Homo sapiens: one gene and its partner. Changing the gene in region 2 together with the main gene of any one other region gives a genetic interaction. Each region holds a gene or a part of one and is shown on either strand. Other genes may lie near its edges.

Region 1 (3,500 bases), on a different chromosome or scaffold from region 2:
TTTTTTTTTTTTTTTTTTTTTTTGGAGACAGGGTCTCACTGTATCGCCGAGGCTGGAGTGCAGTGGCGCAATCATAGCTCTGGGCTCAGGTGACCCTCCTGCCCCCAAGGTAGCTGGGACTGCAGATGTGCACCACCACACCCGACTAGTTTTTTGTAGAGATGGGGTTTCGCCATGTTGTCCAGGCTGGTCTCAAACTCCTAGACTCAAGCTATCCGCCTGCCTGGGCCTCCCAGAGTGCTGGGATTACAGGTATGAGCCACTGCTTCGCCACGTTCACCTTTATTTACTTATTTATTTATTTTTGAGACGGAGTCTCGCTCTGTCCCCCAGGCTGGAGTGCTGTGGCACGATCTTGGCTCACTGCAAGCTCCGCTTCAGCCTCCCAAGTAAGCTGGAACTACAGGTGCCTGCCACCAAGCCTGGCTAATTTTGTTTTTGTATTTTTAGTAGAGACGGGGTTTCACCGTGTTAGCCAGTATGGTCTCGATCTCCTGACCTTGTGATCCGCCCGCCTCGGCCTCCCAAAGTCCTGGGATTACAGGCTTGAGTCACTGTGCCCGGCCCACCTTTTTATTTTTTATTTTATAGAGACAAGGGCTTGCTGTGTTGCCCAGGCTGGTCTTGAACCCCTGACCTTAAGTAATCCTCTCTGGCCTCCCAAAGTGCTGGGATTACAGGTGTAAGCCATAGTACTGGGCCTAAAGTTCACCTTTTTTTTTTTTTTTTTTTTTTTTGAGATGGAGTCTCGCTCTGTCACCCAGGCTGGAGTGCAGTGGCGTGATCTTGGCTCACTGCAAGCTCTGCCTCCCGGGTTCACACCATTCTCCTGCCTCAGCCTCCCGAATAGCTGGGACTACAGGCGCCTGCCACCATGCCCGGCTAATTTTTTTGTATTTTTAGTAGAGATGGGGTTTCACTGTGTTAGCCAGGATGGTCTCGATCTCCTGACCTCGTGATCTGCCTGCCTCGGCCTCCCAAAGTGCTGGGGTTACAGGTGTGAGCCACCGCACCCGGCAAAGTTCACCTTTTTAAAGTGTGTAATTCAGTGGCATATAGTACATTGACAGAGTTGCACAACTATCACCTCTATCAGCTTCCAGAACATTCTTGTTACCCCAGAAGGAAACCCCGTCTCTGTCAGCCATCACTCCCCATTCCCTCCCCAGTCCCGGCACCCACGCATTCCCTTCCTGCCTCTGGATTGGCCTGTCCTGAACATTTCACACGAGTGGTGTCACACACCGCGTGGCCTTTTGCGTCCGGCTTGTCTCACGGAGTGTGCTGTCCTCAAGGGGCATCCGCGCCGTGGCCTGGGTCCGAACCTCTCTGCTGTTCACGGCTGCGTCACTTTCCAGTGTGTGGAGGGCCACGCTGCGTTTGACTGCTCATCTGTGGCTGGACACTTGGGCTGCTCCCGCCTCTGCCTGTGAATTGTGGCTGCTTTGGTGCACGTGTGCTCAGCCGGCGTCCCTCTAGAATCCTTGAGGGCCTTGTTTCAGCCACATCAGGAGGGATTCAGGGACCAGGGCACGCGGGTCTGGAGCTGGGTGTTCCTGGGTCTCCATGTGCCTCCCAGTCCTGCTCTGAGCCGTGGGAGGCCGGGGCGAGGGCCAGGCCCATCTCTTCCCTGTATGATCTGTTTCTAGGCAGACGGAGGCTCCTAGCCCCACCTCTCTGTGAGCTTGAGTGGCGTTTATGACTCTCCTTCCTATTTCCTGTCCTGCTAATCAACAAGTCAGCTAAACAGTCCATGCTGCCTGGGCAAGCCCAGTAGGCCCCTAACGTGGCACCTCGGAGCGGCTGGCGATGCCCCAAGAGCCGGGCTTCCCCCTCCTGGAGGCTCTTCCTGTTCCTCGCCAAGCTCTTAGGTTTCGCTGGGCCTCCTCTTCTGCTCTTTTTCTGGCTGGAGACGTCAGAGGAAGCCTGGCGATCTAGAGAAGCTGATGTGCACCCATCATCCCGGAGGTGACTGCCACCAGGCGGGGGTGGCTCCACCCCCACTCCTCCCCTGGCATAAATCGGGGGACGCACGTGCCTGCGCAGAATGCCTTGGTCCCTTTTAATTAAACAGACAACCCAGTGTCCCTTGGTCTATGCTGACCTGCTCAGGAGTGCCTGGGCTCTTCCACGTTTCAGCTGCTGTGTGTCCTGCTGCTGTGAAGTGTCCCCGTTGAGGTGGAGGCAGGGCAGGGCGCCTTCGGTGAGGGCGAGTCCTCCTGTGCCCGTTTCCCCATCTGTAGAATGATGGCTCATGGAGGAGACATGGTGTCGGCAGGTGGTGGCCGGCGCAGGGAGGTTTCCAGGAGGGAGTCCTCCACCCTCATTTGCTTTTAGGGCCGTGCAGCCTCCCGAGCGGCCCCCACGAGGCTCTGAGGCTGCATGCAGGTTGAGCTCCTGGCCTCACTGCCCCTCCTCAGGGTTAGGACTGTGCTGGAGCCTGGGTGGGTGTGGGGTGGTCCCTGCACAGGCAGCAGGAGGTGGGCCAGAGCGGTGCTGGACCTGAAGGCCCGTGGCTCCCTCAGCTCCACTGAGGAGGCTGGAATAGTGTCCTGGGCCACCTTCCCTGCCGGTAGCCGGCTCCTGCTGAGGGAGGGGGTGCTTTCGCCTCCTGGTGGAGCATCAGGCTCTTGGGGCCTGTGCGTCCGAGCATCTGGCCTCTGCTGTCTGAAAACAGCACCTTCCCCGCCCCCCGGCCACCGCATCTCCTCTGAATAGAAGGCAAGTCTTGCCTCCCAGGAATGGCCTGTGACCTTCATCAGCGGGGGAGGTTAGGGGCACACAGAGCCCTGGGGAACAAGGGGATCTGGGGCTGAGCCGGGCCTCTCGGGCCCACCCCGAGCTCTCCTGAGCAGCCTGGCAGGCAGGAAGGCGCTGGGCCCCGGGGCCTTTGCCGAGCCCAGCCTCACCCTCAGCGTCCCCCTCAATGCCCTGGGTGCCTGCCAGGCTGTGGACACAGGCCCTGGCCAGTTCTATAAATAACCTTGCCGGGCCCTGCTGGGAATTGGTGCCACCACCACATAGCCCAGAGAGAACGGAAACACAGGGCTTCTCAGCGAGCAGACCAGGCCTGCGGTGACCAGTGGAAGTGGGGGACGCTTTCAGGGCTGGGCAGCCCGACAGGGCACCGGGCACAGCCAGGGGCCGGAACCAGTTGCTCACTGGCTCCGCTTCTGGGGGACTGTGTCCCTCTGTGCCCCGTCCCCATCACACCTTGCTTTCCCTTCATCCTGCTCTCCTAGCCCCTCCCCAGACTGGCGGCCCCTTGTCCAGGCCCAGCCCCAGCACAGCCTGCAGCCCTGGCAGAGCTCAGGCCTTGGCCTTCTGAGGTTGCCCTGAGGGCAGTGAGCAATGAGCCCTGGGACTGGTGCACTGGGAGGGAAAGGTGAGCCAAGGCTTCCTGCAAGAGGCAGCCCTGAGCTGGGGGTGGGGAAGGCTGGGTCGTGGGATACCCCTGACACCCCAAGTTTTTTTTTTGAGATGGAGTCTTGCTCTGTCAC
Region 2 (4,283 bases):
TATAATGAACATCATCATTTGTATTTAAGATCTGTTCTAAATTTATATTCAAGTTAACCTTCAGTGTGAGTTATTTCCAGGCACAGCTTCTGTTGTCCATAGCCCAGTTGATGGTATATAAAGTACTGACGACTTTAAAGGTACTACTCTGCTTCCTAAGTTTTTACCTTCCTTTCCCCCACTACAATATCCTCTCCAAAGTGATCCCTAAAGTACTCCGGCTCTTTTCATTGCCTCTCCCCCAAAGGAAACTCAGTTGTTCATATCTGTTAAACCCACTAACTTCTTCCATTTTAACTTAAAAAAAAATTCCCCTCTGTTGCCTTTAAAAGTGTTTCCTTAGGAAGATCTGCATTTTAAACACTTATCTGCACGTTGTTCTACTAAAAAAATATACTAGAAAGGACCGAGAGTCAACGATTCTGAAGGAGTTTGTATCAGGGTCTCTTCTCCCTACCTCGTCAAGTTTAAACACACCCAACGCCTCGATTCCTTGCTTCCGACCCGAGTTGCTGCTTTACATATCCCTGTACATTTGAGGTGTTATTCGTTGATATTTCAATATATTTTAAAATAATTTTCCATTTCTGTTTTGTTAAATTTTTGAATACGTTCTTTTGTATCTCGTGTCATTTCTGCCTCTGGTAACGTTGTCCTTGGTATCCTTGGAACTCATTTCCTTTCTCAACACACAATATTCCCTGTCAGCTGCCACGGGCCCCGCCCTCCAGAAGTTCATACTTTGTGGTCAAGCAGCTTCTTTAACTTTTTAAGACGAATTACCTAGGAAGTGCTATTGTCCCAGGATCACCAGCTCTGCCTAAATTCCTAACTGTTGCGGGTGCTTAGTCACAGAAGATGAATCAGATTCGTCTAATGGGCCCTTTCCTTTTCCACCCACCTTTCCTGTCGCTTTCCGCTGAGCCTCCTCAACTCACGTCATCCCAGCAGGTCCTGGCCCCCAGACCCGGCCCTGGACGGCACGGAGCCCCAGCCCGGGAACGCAGCTGCGAGCGTCCGACCGGGAGACAGCGAAGCTCAGATCTCTCTGCAAAGCGAACGGAGAGCGCAAGGAATGCCCAGGAAGACAGGGCGCGCCCGGGGAGAAAAGAACGTTACTTTAACGCAGCCTCGACCCTGAACCCCCGGCATCTAGGGCTTCCTGGACGAGTGGAGCAAAACAACTCGCCCTGCTGCGTTCCCGGGCCTCTCCTTCCCCTTGCTGGTTTCCCCTTAAGTCTACTTCTCTATTGCTTCCAACCCCTCTCTCCGAAGGCACGTGGTCCTTCCCCGCCTGCCCCCGCCGCACCCCTCCGGGCCCGGAGCCGGCTCCTCCCAGCGTCGTTCGCTTCCCCTTTCCGTTCGCTCTTTCCGCCCCGGCTCTCCATCGCCCCTTCTGATTGGTCGAACGCACCGGAGCCTGGTTAGCCAATGGGCGAGCCGGGCTGGAGGCGATGGGCGTGGCCGCAGCGCCGGGGCCCTCAGATCGAGGCTGCCTCCCCCTCTCAGCCGGCAGCACATTCCGTCGCCTTGCCGCCGCCCGGCCCCACAGTTGTCTTTGCCGGAGCTGCAGTCGCGCTGGGGTTAGGGCGGGGGGGCGGGCGGGGAGAGGAGAAGGCCGCGGCGGAGGCAGGTGAGAGGAGGAAGGAAGCGGCGGCGCGGCGGGCACAGCAGCTCAGGCGGCGGCCCGGTTCCTGGGAGTGTCGGTGCGGCGCGTTGGTTGGGGCGGATCCCGCGGGGCCCGGGCGGGGGAAGGAGTCACCGGCCCGGCCATGGCGGACAACGAGAAACTGGACAACCAACGGCTCAAGAATTTCAAGAACAAAGGCCGCGACTTGGAGGTAAACTCGGGGACGACGCCGGAGGGGTGGGGGCTGTGGGCCTGGGGCCGGTCTCCGCCGGGACCCCGAGTGTGGGGATTAGGGGCGGGAGCCGCCTCCAGGCCTCGGGGAATGGCGCTAGGGGCCGGCCCGTCTGTGACGCCTCTGCTAGCGCGCCGGGAAGTTTATGTCGGGCCTGCTCCGCCTCCGCCGGGGAGCGAGGTGCCCGGGTACGGCCGGCGCGGCCTAGGCCTGCCCGGCGGAGCCGGCCCGGCGCGGGTGCGAGGGGCCGGGCCGCGCGGCGGGGAGGCCGGGCGCGGCGCGTGCGGAGGAGGCGTGCGTGTGCGGCCGGTGCTGCCCCGGCCGGGCCGCGGCCCCTTCCCCGGCAGTGGCGGAGATTCCGGCTCTCGCTCGGGCACCGACGTCTGGCGCCGCGGGAAGGAGGGCGGTGGGAATGGGAGGGTGAGCGTGTGGCGACCGAGTGGGGCTCTGAACTTCCTCAGCGAGGCCCGAGGCGTCTCCACTTAAAGGCATTTTTTCTGGTCTTCCCGACTCCCGCTTTACCCCTGCCTCCCCCCAATATCCAAACTACAGGACAACTTCTCCGTTGAAAAAAACACCCCCGGCGTGAGAGGCCATCCTGGTGATCCTAACAGTGCCTTCCAGCGGCCTGTGTTTTACTCTGGATATAGCTGATTCAAGATGTGGCTCACGGTGTGCCCTCTTCCAGGCAAAGGATACCCCTTATTTCAGCTTGTCCACAAATCTCTTTACCCCCTCCTGAGAGGAGACCACCAGCTGCATTCTTACATATAAAGTCTAAAGGGTTATACAAAGCTGTCATCCTCTAGTCTACAGTATCCTTTCCCTCCACCTGCTGGTGGTGGTAGTGGGGGATGGGGTGGGCTAGGGAATGGCACCATCACGTTTGATTATTTAAAAAGGAAAAAAAAAGCTTCATTGTCTTAGATACAGCTGCTCCCGAGATTGTCTACATAAGGTGTATGGGTTAAATACACACATGCACACACGCATACCCACACACCCCACTGAGATTTTTGATAGAAGACTTCTTCCCTTCAGCTTTTAAGAGTTTAGATAAATAGATTTAATACTTCCCTTCTGCATCTTAATCACGAGTTTAGCTTTTAGGGAAAGTGGTCAAGCAGTATTTTTTATGTTGTTCTCGGTACGTTTTCATAATGAAATCTTCAACTTCCCATGGCATTTCTGAACTTGAGAGTCTGCTTGACTGAGATATTTTTTGGGCTTTTTACAAAGCTGTTAATATTATCTTTAAAGTAGTTCAAGCGTTTTAGTGGGTTTCATAATTTGAGGGACGACTAAGTGTCCAGGGATGTTAATTCTGTGGTTCTTTTAAGGTTAACATATTACCATTGTGATCCCTTTTTTTAATGCAAAGATGTCACATCTTTATTGAGATAATTTGCATGCCATAAAAATGAGCTTCTTAAATAACAATGATTTTTCAGTAAATTTACTTGTTTATGAAAGAATGTGGTGAAAATGTTTTTTACTAATATGAATACTTAGAATGAGAAAAAATCACAAATGATAAAACTTAAAAACTGGTAAGTACCACAAAATTACAGAATCCAGAAAAATAGCAATTAGGTGCTTGACAGATCCCTATAACCCTTTTTTCCTCTACATTTCTGGCTTCATTTTTCTGGCAGCTTCATTGAGATGTAATTCGCATGCCATACAATTCACCCACTTAAAGTGGCTTTTAGTGTATTCGCAGTTTTGCAACCATCACCACAGTCCATCTTAGAACATTTTCACGGCCCCAAAAAGAAACCTGTACTCATTAACAGTCACTCTCCAATTCCCAACTACCCCAGCCCCAGGCAACCAGTTTTTGTCTTCTTAGATTTGCCTATCCTGGACATCCCATATAAATGGAATTGTACAATTTGTGCTCTTTTTTAACTGGCTTCTTTCACATAGTGTAATGTTTTCAAGGTTTATCCGTGTTGTAACAAGAATGTATCAATGTTTCATGGCCGAATGATCCTTATGGCCGAATGATCCAATGATCCTCCAGCTCATGGATATACCACATTTTATTTATCCCTTCTTCAGTTAATGAACATTTTCATTGTTTCCACTTTTTTAGCTATTTTACATAATACTACTAAGAACATTTTTGTGTGGATGTATGTTTTATTTCTCTTGGCTATATACCTAGGAATAGAATTGCTAGATCATATGGAAACTTACTTTGAACCTTTGGTGGAATTGCCAGACTTTCTGAAGTTATCCTTATTTTTTAAATTGATGTTTCCTCCTACCTCATATCTTTTGGCACTTTAGTCAAAATCAGATTAAGTCCTGAGGCTGTATTAGAAGAATATTGTGATGTGTGACTTTTAAAAAATAAGTATATATTGACATTAGCCAGGTTTTTTTGTTTTGTTTTGTTTAGAAATTCATAGTGCC

What was found. A genetic interaction does not mean that the proteins touch.
Region 1: changes in KPNA4 (region 2) and STK11 together harm fitness more than expected from each alone (negative genetic interaction), as found in Homo sapiens cells (one large-scale study listed by BioGRID).

The regions. Positions count from the first base shown.
Region 1 is NC_000019.10:1,212,278-1,215,777, forward strand, and holds part of STK11 (serine/threonine-protein kinase STK11), read left to right. Parts: intron 1-3,500. UniProt on the Homo sapiens protein: Tumor suppressor serine/threonine-protein kinase that controls the activity of AMP-activated protein kinase (AMPK) family members, thereby playing a role in various processes such as cell metabolism, cell polarity, apoptosis and DNA damage response.
Region 2 is NC_000003.12:160,562,772-160,567,054, reverse strand, and holds the start of KPNA4 (importin subunit alpha-3), read left to right. Parts: upstream 1-1,483; 5' UTR 1,484-1,772; coding exon 1,773-1,841; intron 1,842-4,283. UniProt on the Homo sapiens protein: Functions in nuclear protein import as an adapter protein for nuclear receptor KPNB1. Binds specifically and directly to substrates containing either a simple or bipartite NLS motif.